Linked DNA regions of Homo sapiens: region 2 is linked to region 1. The links come from fine-mapping of genetic effects on gene expression. Tissue or cell type: tibial nerve. Region 1 holds a variant in brackets; the other region holds the start of a gene. All regions are shown on one strand. Distances are from middle to middle.

The links. PIP is the estimated chance that this variant, and not a neighbour inherited with it, causes the effect.
Region 2: it holds the start of KLK8, and the variant in region 1 is fine-mapped to the expression of KLK8 in tibial nerve (GTEx, PIP above 0.99).

Annotation. Positions count from the first base shown.
Region 1 is chr19:50,941,938-50,949,446 of GRCh38, reverse strand. KLK5 (kallikrein related peptidase 5) reads left to right here. Exons shown (of 6, transcript NM_012427.5): 4 at 332-588; 5 at 674-807; 6 at 5,661-6,144. The coding sequence ends at 5,816. Among named protein-coding and RNA genes, the nearest start is that of KLK5, 7.3 kb to the left of the region's middle. The variant TG/G (reference allele first, on the strand shown) is at 3,010.
Region 2 is chr19:50,997,359-51,004,867 of GRCh38, reverse strand. It overlaps KLK8 (kallikrein related peptidase 8), which reads left to right and starts at 3,264. Exons shown (of 6, transcript NM_007196.4): 1 at 3,264-3,336; 2 at 3,693-3,770; 3 at 4,285-4,444; 4 at 4,610-4,872; 5 at 6,984-7,117. The coding sequence starts at 3,701. It overlaps KLK9 (kallikrein related peptidase 9), which reads left to right. Exons shown (of 5, transcript NM_012315.2): 4 at 1,028-1,164; 5 at 1,608-2,360. The coding sequence ends at 1,757.

The DNA of each region.
Region 1 (7,509 bases):
TGGAGATAGGGTTGAGATTGGGAGCAGATATAGAATGAAGGATGGGGATTGGAGTTTTGGGTGGGGTTGGAGATGGTTGGATTTGGGCTTGAGAATGCATATGGTGATGGCTTCTGGGTAGGGAAAGAATTAGGGTTGGGAATGGGATGGGTTTGGAATTGTGACTGGGATGGGGACAGGCATGGGATTGGAGACCAAGAGGGAGTTGAGGATGGTTTGGGGACCGGGGGTGGGGATGGGGGTGGGGCTGGGGCTGGGTGTGGGGTTGGGATTGGCGTTGGACGTGGAGATAGAGATCAGGGTTGGTGGTGACCTGCCCCATCTTCCTCAGAGTTTTCAGAGTCCGTCTCGGCCACTACTCCCTGTCACCAGTTTATGAATCTGGGCAGCAGATGTTCCAGGGGGTCAAATCCATCCCCCACCCTGGCTACTCCCACCCTGGCCACTCTAACGACCTCATGCTCATCAAACTGAACAGAAGAATTCGTCCCACTAAAGATGTCAGACCCATCAACGTCTCCTCTCATTGTCCCTCTGCTGGGACAAAGTGCTTGGTGTCTGGCTGGGGGACAACCAAGAGCCCCCAAGGTGAGTGTCCAGGTTCTTCTTGATACCGACCCATCTCTGCCGCCTTCCATCTTTCTCCACTTCTCATTGTGTTCCTGTTTGACAGTGCACTTCCCTAAGGTCCTCCAGTGCTTGAATATCAGCGTGCTAAGTCAGAAAAGGTGCGAGGATGCTTACCCGAGACAGATAGATGACACCATGTTCTGCGCCGGTGACAAAGCAGGTAGAGACTCCTGCCAGGTGAGGACACCTCTCTTTATTCAGCAGATACACACTGAGTGCCAACTCGGTAACATGGAGCGTTGCCAAATTCTGAGAATCCAGCAATTGCCAAGACAGTCAGGACCCCTGTTCTCACAGAGCTCATACCCTAGAGTAGTGGTGTTTAGTAGAAATAATGCTGAGCTGCTTATGTCATTTCCAGTTTTTTAGTAGCCACATTAAAACAGGTAAAAAAGGCTGGGCGCAGTGGCTCACACCTGTAATCCCAGCACTTTGGGAGGCTGAGGCAGGCAGATCACCTTTGGTCAGGAGTTTGAGACTAGCCTGGCCAACATGGCGAAACTCTGTCTCTAAAAAAAAATACAAAAATTAGCCTGGCATGGTGGCGGGCGCCTGTAATCTCAGCTGCTCAGGAGGCCGAGACACAAGAATCACTTAAACCCAGGAGGTGGAGGTTGCAGTGAGCTGAGATCGTGCCACTCACTCCAACCTGGGAGACAGAGTGACACTTTTGTCTCAAAAAGAAAAAAAAAAACAAGTAAAAAAGAAACAGGTGAAGTTAACTTTAATAACCCAATGTATCCCAAATACAATCATTTCAAAGTGTAATTAATATAAAACAATTATGAATGAGATACTTTACATTCTTTTCTTGTTTTCATATTAAGTCTTTGAAAGTGAGTATATATGTTATGCTGACAGCACATCTCAATTTGGACTAGCTACATTTCAGGTGCTCAGTAGCCACATGTGGCTAGCAGTTACTGTATTGGATGGCACGGATCTAGAGGGAAAGATCAGGGCTGTTTTGTATGGTTGGGCAGGTTGTGCACTGCATAAAGATACCATATCTAATAGGGGCACTCCGTGTTACAGATGTCAGTTTTGGCAGTTTTCAGGCGTGTGGTAGTTAAGTGTCTTGTTTCAACAAAATCTGTAATATGACAGTTTTCTAGCAAGTGCTGGTAAAATATCTTGAGGAAGGAAAAGAGAAATCTGGTAGGTATTTTTACAAGAGAATATTTAATACAGGGGATTAATTGCAAAGCTGCTGGAAGGGCTGGAGGAACAAAGTTAAAAAATAAAAAACTCTGTGGTCAAGAATCTGCATAAATAGGGCAATTTCAGAGAGTGGTAAAGGTTAACCCCAAAATAAAACATGGTTTTAGGATAGTAAACAATAAGGGCCAATATTCAAAAAGGTGGTCAGGGGAGCCTCCTTGGAGAGGTGGCATTTGAGCAGAGAATGGATGACACAAAGAAGCTAAACTCGTGAAGTTTAAGGGGAAAGAAAAGGCACGTGCAAAGGCCCTGAGGCAGTAAGGAATTTGGCTGATTCAAAGAAGAAGAGGAAACCAATGCAACTGGAGAACAAAAGTGGGGGCAACAGTAGAAAGTGACGCTGGAGGTGTAGGCAGGGGCGAATGCTCTGCAAGTATTTCTTGGTCACCAACACAGAGCTTCCCTATGTTCTAATGGAAGCTGTATCTGTTGAGGAAGACAGAATTTAAAATCAAACTGTTACATCAACCAGCACCCTTCTCTGTATTCAGGCTCCCAAGGGATCTAGAAGGACGTAAGTTAACAAGCTCTCATTAGCAGGGTGTGTGTTTCAACAGTAGTTAGGAAGCTGGGGATTCAGGAGTACTCCAGTCCCATGGCTATGAAAAGCTCCCCCCAAATTGTACAAACCTGACAAATGCAACACCTCCCCAGCTCTCCCCATTTCTTCTCTGTGCCCTGGGTGTGGGGGGGTGGGTTGCGAGGGGGAAAACTTTTAACAGAAGAAAGCACATCTCGGCCGGGCGTGGTGGCTCACACCTGTAATCCCAACACTTTGGGAGGCCGAGGCGGGTGGATCACTAGGTCAGGAGATGGAGACCATCCTGGCTGACACGGTGAAACCCTGTCTCTACTAAAAACACAAAAAATTAGCCGGGCGTGGTGGCAGGCGCCTGTAGTCCCAGCTACTCGGGAGGCTGAGGCAGGAGAATGGCCTGAACCCGGGAGGCGGAACTTGCAGTGAGCCGAGGTTGCACCACTGCACTCCAGCCTGGGCAACACAGTGAGACTCCGTCTCAAAAAAAAAAAAAGAAAAGAAAAGAAATCACATCTCATTCAAGTGGTGGCATTTAAAACTATTTAGCCTTTCTGTAGGCAAGGTTAGTATCTTGTTTTTCCAGACCTCAAGGTGTTTTTTTGTTTGTTTTTTCATACCGG[TG/G]TGTGGTCTGGGTGTGGCCACTAAAAGCTACAAGCAAGAAATAATAACAACTACAACAATACTAATACCAATAGTATAAAAATAATAGCATCTGGCTAATTGCTGGACACTGTTTTAAGTGGTTTGCATGCCTCAGCTCATTAACTCATTTACCTGTTATTATTGGCCCTATTTTACAAACAAGGAGCCAAGGCTCAGAGCAGTTAACTAACAGCCTCTCAAAAGAAACTCTGCAGAGATATTAAATTTAAAAAATAATGAGAGAAATTAAACCACAAGAAAGTTGAAATTTAGAGGTACAGGCAGCTAAGCTTGTTTGCTTTGAAACAGTGTCTGCTACTGGGAAAAAGGCAAGTCTTGGCTTTCCTAATAATTGATACCAGGACTCTGTAATTCATATTTTGCATGCATGTAAGTAAGAAATGAAGCCGGGTGCAATGGCACATGCCAGTAATCCCAGCACTCTGGGAGACTGAAGTGGGAAGATCACTTGAGCTCAGGAGTTCAAGACCAGCCTGGGCAACTAAAAATTAAAAAAATAAAAATACTAATTGTTTTTATTTTAGTAGATTTTATTCATACCACTTACATCATTATTGTAGTATGTACATATTTATTTCTTTTCTTTTCTTTTCTTTTCTTTTTTGAGACGGAGTCTCGCTCTGTCACCCAGGCTGGAGTGCAATGGCACCATATCAGCTCACTGCAGCATGCGCCTCCTGGGTTCAAGCATTTCTTCCACCTCAGCCTCCCAAGTAGCTGGGATAACAGGCACCCACCACCATGCCTGGCTATTTTTTTTTTTCCGTAGAGATGGGGTTCCACCATGTTGGCCAGGCTGGTCTTGAACTCCTGACCTCCAGTGATCTGCCTGCCTCGGCCTCCCAAATTGCTGGTATTACAGGTGTGAGCCACCGTGCCCAGGTGGGAGATAGACATTTCTCTCTACCTCAAACAGAGGTCCACTCAAGCTACTTTTCATTTTCTTCATAAATATTAGCCGAGTGGCTATTTTGCACCAGGAATGGTTCCAGGTGCTGTGGATATGGCATCAGGCAAAACAGACCAAAAACTTCCTGCCGCGTGGACCTCATGTTCCCCAAGTGGAAGACAGGCAATAAAGAGATAGATAAATATGTAGTAAATTAAAAAAAAAAAAAATTAGCCGGGTGTGGTGGCTTGCACCTGTAGTTCCAGCTACTTGGGAGGCTGAGGTGGGAGAATTGCTTGAGCCCAAACGTTTGAGGCTGCGGTAAGCCATGACTGCACTGCTGCACTCCAGACAGCAGCCTGGGTGACAAAGCAAGACGTTTTTGTCAGAAAGAAAAAAAAAAGAGACGAAGGGAGGAAGGAGAGAGAAAGGAAGGAAGGAAGGAGAAAGAAAGGAAGGAAGGAGAAAGAAAGGAAGGAAGGAAGGAGAAAGAAAGGAAGAAAGAGAAAGAAAGAAAAAGAAAGAAAGAAAGAAGAAAGAAAAGAGAGAGGAAGGAAGGAAAGAAGGAAAAGAGGGAAAAAAATGACTGTTGAAGAGCAGTGAGTATTATTATAGGAGGGTAATTATAGGGAGGTATGGGGAATTGAAGACAGGAAACACAAATTAGTCCAAGCGAATGGATTTCTATTGGGAGTGATTCTGCCCCTAGAAGACACTGGCAATACCAGGAGACATTTTTGGTTGTCACAACTATATGGAGGGGCATTACTGGCAACTAATGGATAGATGCCAAGTGTGCTGTTCAACATGCTATGATGCACACGGCAGGCCTCCACAACAAACCATTATCCAGCTTCAGATGCCCACAGTGCCCAGATCGAGGAACCCTCATCCAGGGGCTGAGAACCGTATTTTTGCAGAAGGGAGGTATAAGGATGGGTTGGTGGAGAATGGGGAAGGAAGGTGTGTGTCCAGTAAGAGAAATAAGGCCTGCACAGGCTGGAGGGGAGAGTGAGAGAGAAAGGGAGGCGGAGAGATACACGATGAGGGAGACAGGCTGGAACAGAAAGTAGAGACGAAGATTCGAGATGTGGAGAGGAAGGGTCACAGACCCCCCCGAAATGATGTGTGGACAACAGGAATCTGGAAGAGGAAGATGGAGTGGAGAGTGACAAATGGGGTCTAAAGGTTGAACTTGGAGGCCAGGCATGGTGGCTCACGCCTGTAATCCCAACACTTTGGAGGCTGAGGTGGGCGAATCACTTGAGGCCAGGAGTTCGAGACCAGCCTGGCCAACATGGTGAAACCCCGTCTCTACAAAAAAAATACAAAAAATTAGCCGGGTGTGGTGATGGACACCTGTAGTCACAGCTACTTGGGAGGCTGAGGCAGGAGAATTGCTTGAACCCGGGAGATGGAGGCTGCAGTGAGCTGAGGTCAGGCCACTGCGCTCCAACCTGGGCAACAGAGTAAGACTCCATCTCAAAAAAAAAAAAGCTGGATTTGGAGTGAAATATTAATAACATTCTCCCTCTCTCTCCTTTTGCCTGTGTCTCCATCTCTGTCTTTTTCTGCATTTCTTCATCTCTGTACTTTCCATCTCTGTGTGTCTGTTCCCATCTGCTTCTCCATCTATGGGCATCTCTGGGTCTCTCATGTCTCCTTCTGCCCACTTTGCCACATCTCTGCCTCTCTCATGCCCCCCTTTCTCTCCTGCAGGGTGATTCTGGGGGGCCTGTGGTCTGCAATGGCTCCCTGCAGGGACTCGTGTCCTGGGGAGATTACCCTTGTGCCCGGCCCAACAGACCGGGTGTCTACACGAACCTCTGCAAGTTCACCAAGTGGATCCAGGAAACCATCCAGGCCAACTCCTGAGTCATCCCAGGACTCAGCACACCGGCATCCCCACCTGCTGCAGGGACAGCCCTGACACTCCTTTCAGACCCTCATTCCTTCCCAGAGATGTTGAGAATGTTCATCTCTCCAGCCCCTGACCCCATGTCTCCTGGACTCAGGGTCTGCTTCCCCCACATTGGGCTGACCGTGTCTCTCTAGTTGAACCCTGGGAACAATTTCCAAAACTGTCCAGGGCGGGGGTTGCGTCTCAATCTCCCTGGGGCACTTTCATCCTCAAGCTCAGGGCCCATCCCTTCTCTGCAGCTCTGACCCAAATTTAGTCCCAGAAATAAACTGAGAAGTGGAATCTTCCTGTGTCTCCTCCCTGTGCAGGGTGGCTGTGAACAAGTCATATCTCCGCCTCCAGGCTCATGTGTTTTGTCTATGAGGTCACTTGGGTTGTGAGAAACAGAGGTCCAGTCAGACTACTTTTCACCTTCTTCATAAATATTGGCCAGGTGGCTATTTTTTATTTTCATTTATTTATTATTATTATTTTTTTTTTTTTGCGATGGAGTCTCACTCTGTTAACCACACTGGAGTGCAGTGGCACAATCTCGGCTCACTGCAACCTCCACCTCCCAGGTTCAAGCGATTCTCCTGCCTCAGCCTCCCAAGCATCTGGGATTACAGGCGTCCACCACCACGCCCAGCTAGTTTTTGTATTTTTAGTAGAAACAGGGTTTCACCATGTTGGCCAGGCTGGTCTCGAACTCCTGACCTCAAGTGATCTGCCCGCCTCAGCCTCCCAAAGTGCTGGGATTACAGGCATGAGCCACCACACCCGGGCCCATGTGGCTACTTTGCACCAGGAATGGTTCCATGTGCTGGGGATAAGGCATTGGGCCAAACAGACCAAAAAGTTCCTGCCTTGTAGAGCTCACATTCCAGGAGTGGAAGACAGACAATAAAGAGAGAGATAATTGGGAGGCCAAAGCAGGCGAATCACAAGTTCAGGAGATCGAGACCATCCTGGCCAACATGGTGAAACCCCCTCTCTACTAAAAATACAAAAATTAGCTAGGCATGGTGGCATGCACCTGTAATCCCAGCTACTCAGGAGACTGAGGCAGGAGAATTGCTTGAACCTGGGAGGTGGAGATTACAGTGAGCAGAGATCACGCCACTGCACTCCAGCCTGGCGACAGTAAGATGCCAGCTCAAAAAAACAAAAGAGAGAGAGAGATAAACTTGTATGTGCCATAGTAATTATGTAAGTGACATGAACACAATGAGAGCAGGGCATAAGGCAAGAGAGGAAATGTCGTGAGTTGGTGGGGGGGGTCTCTACATTGGATGATCAAGGAGGGCATGGGAGGCAGCATAATGCCTCCCTCCCACCTCGAAACGCCATCTTAATTTCTGGAGCCTGTGAATATGTTACCTTCTATAGCAAGGGGGCTTTGCTGATGTGATTAAGGGTCTTGAGATGGGGAGATGATCCTGGATTATCTGGGTGGACCCAATATAATCAGAAGGGTCCTTATAAGAGGGAGGCGGAAAGATCAGAATGAGAGACTGGAAGATGCTATGCTGCTGGCTTTGAAGACAGAGGAAGATGAGCATGGTGGCTCACGCCTGTAATCCCAGCACTTTGGGAGGCCAAGGCAGGGGCATGGCTTGAGGCCAAGAGTTCAAGACCAGCCTGGGCAACATAGGGAGACCCCATCTC
Region 2 (7,509 bases), 55 kb before region 1:
TCCATATCCACATCTATACTGACTACACTGTATCTGGTATCTCTGTCTATGTCTCTGTCTCCATCAGTGACCATCTTCCTGCAAATCTCTTTCCTTTTATCTCACTGCCTTCATTCCACCCCTTGAGGTCTGGGTCTTTTTCTATTTCTTTTTTTTTTTTTTTTAAGAGACTGAGTCTTGCTCTTGTTGCCCAGGCTGGAGTGCAGTGGTGTGATCTCGGCTCACTGCAACCTCCACCTCCTGGGTTTTAAGTGATCCTCCTGCCTCAGCCTCCCGAGTAGCTGGGACTACAGGTGTGCAACAGCATGCCCAGCTGATTTTTTGTATTTTCAGTAGAGACGGAGTTTCACCATGTTGGCCAGGATGGTCTCAATCTCTTGACCTTGTGATCCGCCCGCCTCAGCCTCCCAAAGTGCTAGGGAGTTATATATGCATCTCCTCTTATCTCTTGGCTCTCTGCATGCATCTTTCTGTTTCTCTTCCTTCCTTTCTTTTTTTTTTTTTTTTTTTTTTTTTTTTTTTTTTTTTTGAGACGGAGTCTTGCTCTGTCTCCCAGGCTGGAGTGCAGTGACCAGTCTCGGCTCACTGCAACCTCCACCTCCCAGGTTCAAGTGATTCTCGTGCCTCAGCCTCCCGAGTAGCTGGGATTACAGGCGCCTGCCACCATGCCTGGCTAATTTTTGTATATTTAGCAGAGATGGGGTTTCACCATGTTGGCTGGGCTGGTCTCAAACTCCTGACCTCAAGCGATCCGCCGGCCTCGGCCTCCAAAACACTGGGATTACAGGCATGAGCCACGGTGCCCGGCCAGCCTCTCTCTCTACTTGGCCCTCTTCCTCCTTGTCTCCATTTGTTTCTCTTGTGTGCTATGACTGTCTGTCTGTCACTGTCTCTTGTCTCTATCTTTGAGAGTCCTAAATGTGGCTCCATTGGTCCTTTGGAAAAGCTGCAGGGAGGACTCAGGGCAGTGGGGTGCTGAGTGTGTTGGAGACAGTTGCAGATCCTTGACAGTTCTCTTCCCTGACAGCGCTGTTTCCAGTCACACTGCAGTGTGCCAACATCAGCATCCTGGAGAACAAACTCTGTCACTGGGCATACCCTGGACACATCTCGGACAGCATGCTCTGTGCGGGCCTGTGGGAGGGGGGCCGAGGTTCCTGCCAGGTGAGACCTTACTCTGGGGAAAATGAGGCTGTCCTGCCAAGTTTTCTAGGATTTAGGGGAGCAGAGGGGTCGGCCCCCAGCCTTCCTGGGTCAAAATGAGAAGGAGACTGGGATACCTGGTTCCTGGGAGAGGACGGGACCAGGGCCTGGACTCCTTAGTGTAAAAGAGAAAAGGTCTGGAGGTCCAGACTTCTGGATCTACAGGAGGAGTGGGCTGGGCGTCCAGAGTCTGAGTCCTCGGGGAGGAGGAGGTTAGGTCCTGCGGGGAGGTGGGCCCTCTGAGCTTTTACTCCTGGGTCTGAGGAAGAAGAGGCTGGAGATGGAGGACTCTCGGATGTTGGAGGAGGAAGGGGCTGGGGCCTTTCTGGGAGGGAGGAAGTGGCCCGTGTAATTGTCATGAACAGAGTGGCCTAACAGTTCCTCTGCCCTTCTCTCGCGTACAGGGTGACTCTGGGGGCCCCCTGGTTTGCAATGGAACCTTGGCAGGCGTGGTGTCTGGGGGTGCTGAGCCCTGCTCCAGACCCCGGCGCCCCGCAGTCTACACCAGCGTATGCCACTACCTTGACTGGATCCAAGAAATCATGGAGAACTGAGCCCGCGCGCCACGGGGGCACCTTGGAAGACCAAGAGAGGCCGAAGGGCACGGGGTAGGGGGTTCTCGTAGGGTCCCAGCCTCAATGGTTCCCGCCCTGGACCTCCAGCTGCCCTGACTCCCCTCTGGACACTAAGACTCCGCCCCTGAGGCTCCGCCCCCTCACGAGGTCAAGCAAGACACAGTCGCGCCCCCTCGGAACGGAGCAGGGACACGCCCTTCAGAGCCCGTCTCTATGACGTCACCGACAGCCATCACCTCCTTCTTGGAACAGCACAGCCTGTGGCTCCGCCCCAAGGAACCACTTACACAAAATAGCTCCGCCCCTCGGAACTTTGCCCAGTGGGACTTCCCCTCGGGACTCCACCCCTTGTGGCCCCGCCTCCTTCACCAGAGATCTCGCCCCTCGTGATGTCAGGGGCGCAGTAGCTCCGCCCACGTGGAGCTCGGGCGGTGTAGAGCTCAGCCCCTTGTGGCCCCGTCCTGGGCGTGTGCTGGGTTTGAATCCTGGCGGAGACCTGGGGGGAAATTGAGGGAGGGTCTGGATACCTTTAGAGCCAATGCAACGGATGATTTTTCAGTAAACGCGGGAAACCTCACCTTCTTTCTGCCTGAGCTGTGAGATGAGTGGAGAGCAAACGGGTGGGCGGTGAAGGGCAGATGAGGGAACCGGTACCGCCTTGCAACTCCCCCTTAAACCCCTAGTAAGTTTTGCCTAAAGTCTCTGTCCATCAGCCCTATTGCAGCAAGACTCCTGGGTTCTGCTTGGGTTGGTCTTGCCGCCTCCAGGGGAAGGGGAAACCAGGTCACAGTGCCTCCCAAACCTGCCCTCCCAGATCCCGGACCTCTCAGGGGACAGCGGGCGGGGCCTGATCCACCCTCTGGTTTCTGACCCTAGAAGACCTGCCTTTCTTCGGTTCCCGGTTACTGGCAGCAGCCCCCTCCTCCCACAAAAGATCAGGTTCCAAGCTTCTCCTTTTAAAAGTACTTAGAATTCAGCCCCCAGCTCTCTCCTCCCTCACACCCAGGAATCCAGGCCCCTAGCCCCTCCTCCCTCAGACCCAGGAGTCCTGGCCCCTAGCAGCCCCCTCCTCCCTCAGACCCAGGAGTCTGGGCCCCCAGCCCCTCCTCGGTCAGACCTAAATCCCAGGTCCCAGTCCCTCCTCCCTTAGATTTAGGAGTCCAGGCCCCCAGCCTCTCCTCCCTCAGACCCAGGAATCCAGGCCCCCAGCCTCCTCCCCTCTCAGAACTAAAATCTTGGCCCCCAGCCCTTTATGTTTCAGATCGTAGAGTCTCAGCACCGAGTCCCTCCTCTCCCTAGCCTCAGGAGTCTGAGATTCCAGCCCCTCCTCCCTCAAGATTTCACGTTCAATCCCCTCCGCCCCTTCTCACTCACACCCAGTGTTCCAGTTCCCAGAAGCTCCCCAGGCTCTAGTGCAGGAGGAGAAGGAGGAGGAGCAGGAGGTGGAGATTCCCAGTTAAAAGGCTCCAGAATCGTGTACCAGGCAGAGAACTGAAGTACTGGGGCCTCCTCCACTGGGTCCGAATCAGTAGGTGACCCCGCCCCTGGATTCTGGAAGGTGAGGTGCAGAGGTACTCAGATACAGACATCAGGCCCCGGACCCTCCTTCTCCAGATTCCAGGACCCCAGCCTCAGATGCCCTTCTCTGTCGAGATCCAGCAGTCTGGACCCCGGCTTCCTCCTCTCCCTAATTTAGGAGTCCCAGCTCCCAGCTCCCTGTCCCCTCAGACCCAGACATCGAGGACTCCCCCCTCCCTTGGAATGTAGGAATCCAGTCCCCCAGCCTCCTCCTTCCTCCAGAGAAGCCCAGAACAGCCCCAGATACTCTCGGCTGCCTCCCCAGTGCCCAAATCCAGAACTGGGAGCTCAGGCTCCTCCTTCCTGTTTACCGGCCCCGCCCTCTCCATTTCCCAGACCTCACCATGGGACGCCCCCGACCTCGTGCGGCCAAGACGTGGATGTTCCTGCTCTTGCTGGGGGGAGCCTGGGCAGGTGAGGAGGGTTGCGGAGGCCTCCGGAGGGGAGGGATCTGAAGGCAGCAGTGGCGCTGGGGAGTCTGTGGGAATGCCGCGGGGGTTATGTGGGTGCGTGTGCACGGATGTGAAGAGTGCGATACGGTGCAGGAGCCTCTGTGGGCTTTCCTCAGGGTGGACAGAGGCAAGAAACAGGTAGCAGCAGGTAGGAGTAGGTTCCGTGATGCTGTAAATTGTCTGAATAGCTACAGCCTTTGGGGGCTGCTTGCTTGGGGGCATAGATTCACCTGGGAGTACTCGGGGCCTGTAGACTCATGTGGAAGCATGTGGGGGCATTCTTGGGTGTGTGACTCTTGTATGATGACACATGGACTGAAATGAGTGTCCCCGTGTGGCAGCGTGTGGAAGCCTGGACCTCCTCACTAAGTTGTATGCGGAGAACTTGCCGTGTGTCCATTTGAACCCACAGTGGCCTTCCCAGCCCTCGCACTGCCCCAGAGGGTGGCGATCCAACCCTCTCCCTCCTGCTGCAGGACACTCCAGGGCACAGGAGGACAAGGTGCTGGGGGGTCATGAGTGCCAACCCCATTCGCAGCCTTGGCAGGCGGCCTTGTTCCAGGGCCAGCAACTACTCTGTGGCGGTGTCCTTGTAGGTGGCAACTGGGTCCTTACAGCTGCCCACTGTAAAAAACCGTGAGTGGATGATGGGGGCAGAGGTCAGCTGGGGCTTAAGGAAAGAGGGGGCTGGGGTTTCGACTCAGGAAGGAGAGAGCTGAGGACTGGACTCCTGGGTCTGAAGGAGGAGGGGGCTGGGGGCAATACCCCTGCCTGGGTCCCAAACTATCCCCACCATTACAGGAAATACACAGTACGCCTGGGAGACCACAGCCTACAGAATAAAGATGGCCCAGAGCAAGAAATACCTGTGGTTCAGTCCATCCCACACCCCTGCTACAACAGCAGCGATGTGGAGGACCACAACCATGATCTGATGCTTCTTCAACTGCGTGACCAGGCATCCCTGGGGTCCAAAGTGAAGCCCATCAGCCTGGCAGATCATTGCACCCAGCCTGGCCAGAAGTGCACCGTCTCAGGCTGGGGCACTGTCACCAGTCCCCGAGGTAGTGGGCTTGTCCACTAATGGGAGGGAGAGGAGGAGCTGGTTGGCCCAGTGGAACCCAAGCTATTGGCAAAGCTTGGTCCCCCAGAGGGAGACAAAGAAGGGAAAGTGATCATGATGTTGAGATTCACAAGCAGGAGTCATATGAGAAGCCTCGAAGATCTGACTACTAACAAGAGTGGTGAGAGAAAGAACCAACTAGCAGATTGTTAAGCAGGGCCAGAAAAGCCCATCCTGTATGGCGGAGAGCACTACCCTATGGGACCTTTGGTTGTATAGGATTTTATATAATCTTAACACACTTGGGATATTTGGACTTCTCAGAGGCCCAGGAAAACAGGCTCCTAAGCACCTTCTCCCCCACCTCCCTCCTTTTTTTTTTTTTTTTTTTTTTTTTTTTTTTTTTTTTTTTTGCAGGGGGACACAGTTTCACTCAATCGCCCAGGCTGGAGTGCAGTGGCACAATCTCAGCTCACTACAATCTCTGCCTCCTGGGTTTAAGCGATTCTCGAACCTCAGCCTCCCGAGTAGCTGGGATTACAGGCACCCGCCACCACGCGAGCTAATTTTTGTATTTGTTGTAGAGACAGGGTTTCGCCATGTTGACCAGGCTGGTCTCGAACTCCTGACCTCAAGTGATCTGCCCGCCTCGGCCTACCAAAGTGCTGGGATTACAAGCATGAGCCACCGCCCCTGGCCTTTTTCTCCTTCTTGAACCCAGGAAACCTGGGCCCTGGTCACCTCTTCCCTCAGACCCGGGAGTCTAGGCCCTTCTTCTCCCAGGACCCAGCAGTCCTAGCTCCCTCTTGACTCTGGACCCCAAAATCTGGACCTCCAATGAAGCTGTCCCTTTGGGACTCCAGAATCCAGAGAGCCCCTCGCCTTCCTTCACAGTGAAAACATTGGGACTCACCTAAGAGAGTCAAGGAGCTTCTCCAGGAAGTGGCAAAGTCAGCATTCAGGTCCCTGCCTGCCTCACTCCTGCTCTGAATGCTTTGGATGAGACAGTTTGCGGCTGTGGAAACACACGTGCTCGCAAATCAAGTAGATCAGTTCAAACTATGGCTCTGCCCTTTCTCCCTGGGCAAATTCCTTTCCATCTCTGAGCCTCACTTTCCTTATCTGCAAAATGGGAATCATTAACCAATAGATTTTTTAGCTACGTGAGGGTTCAGGTTACATCAGTTTTCTTCATTGTGTTCTCCTAGTGCTCAGAATGGTGCCTGCTACATGGTAGATGCTCAATAAATATTTGTTGAATGGATGACCTGATGAATAAATAATGAAATGAATGAATGCATCTCTCCTTCAAAGCGCTGTTGTGAGGATTAAATGAGATTATGAGCATATTGCTTTTGGCACGTAGAGATGCCAGATGGAAGTTTTTCCCCCTCAAAGAGGCTTTGGAGAAGTCTATTCCTCAAAAGAGGTTAATAAAAAAGATCAATTCCACCTTCAATCATTAATTCAACTCTTATTTACTGAGCACCTAGTATGCCTGAGGTGCTGTTGCAGGCGCTGGATATACAGCCATGAGCAAACTGTACAAAGTCCTTGTCGTTATGGAGTTGCAAGCTAGGTGGGAGAAATAGACAATAAACAAATACACATAAAATAAAACATTAGGCAAAGTGCTGTAAGGAAATATTGTGGAGCGTAAAAGGATAGGGAGTAATGGAGGGATGGTATTTTTTAATTCGAGTGGTCAGGGAAGGCTTCCAGGAGGAGGTGACACTTGGAAGGAGCAGGATTTAGCACAGATTGAGGACCCGGTTGTCTGAGGGCAGGAAGACTGGAAAGAGAGGGTCAGAGGTATCATAAAGGGGCACCTCCAAGTAACCCCCAGCCCCTTGATTTGAAAATGGCTCAGGGTAAGAAAAAACACGTGAGATCCAAGGGCCCCTCTCTAGATGGAGAAAGCCCAATAGCAACAAGTACAGCTTCGTTTAATGTGGTGAGAAGTGATGTCCCCTGTGCACAGTGTCAGAAAATTCCCCCATGCAGCTGGAAAACTCCCCCATTACATCCTGGAAAGAAAGGGGGTTAGATCCAGACAGGGATGGAGGCAAAGGGCTGCTCTCTCAGGGAACCTTACAACCTCTTCCCCCTCAGAGAATTTTCCTGACACTCTCAACTGTGCAGAAGTAAAAATCTTTCCCCAGAAGAAGTGTGAGGATGCTTACCCGGGGCAGATCACAGATGGCATGGTCTGTGCAGGCAGCAGCAAAGGGGCTGACACGTGCCAGGTGAGCAATTTCTGAAATCCTTCTCCTCACACATCCCTCATTGCCCTCTCGAGGTTCAAGGCTTGGATGGGGGTGGGGGTGGTAAGGGAGTGACCCCAAAGACTTGGCACCCGGAGTGTTCACCCCTATCTCTACGGATTGGGAGCCAGGTTCAGAGAAGCCAAACTCTCTCTCTGAAAGTCACACTGCATAGGGATTAGGAGCATTGAATTGCTGCTGCTGTTTTCTTTCGAACGCTTAACTACAGGATGGGATGCAGAGTTGGGGGCTATAGAGGGTGGGGTAGATGTCCAGCAAGGAGAGAGTCTGAGGCTAGAGTTTAGACGAGTTGCCTGCTCTCTGGTTCCCAGCATTACATCGTGGAATTTGTGCCGACTTTACCACCGGCCCGG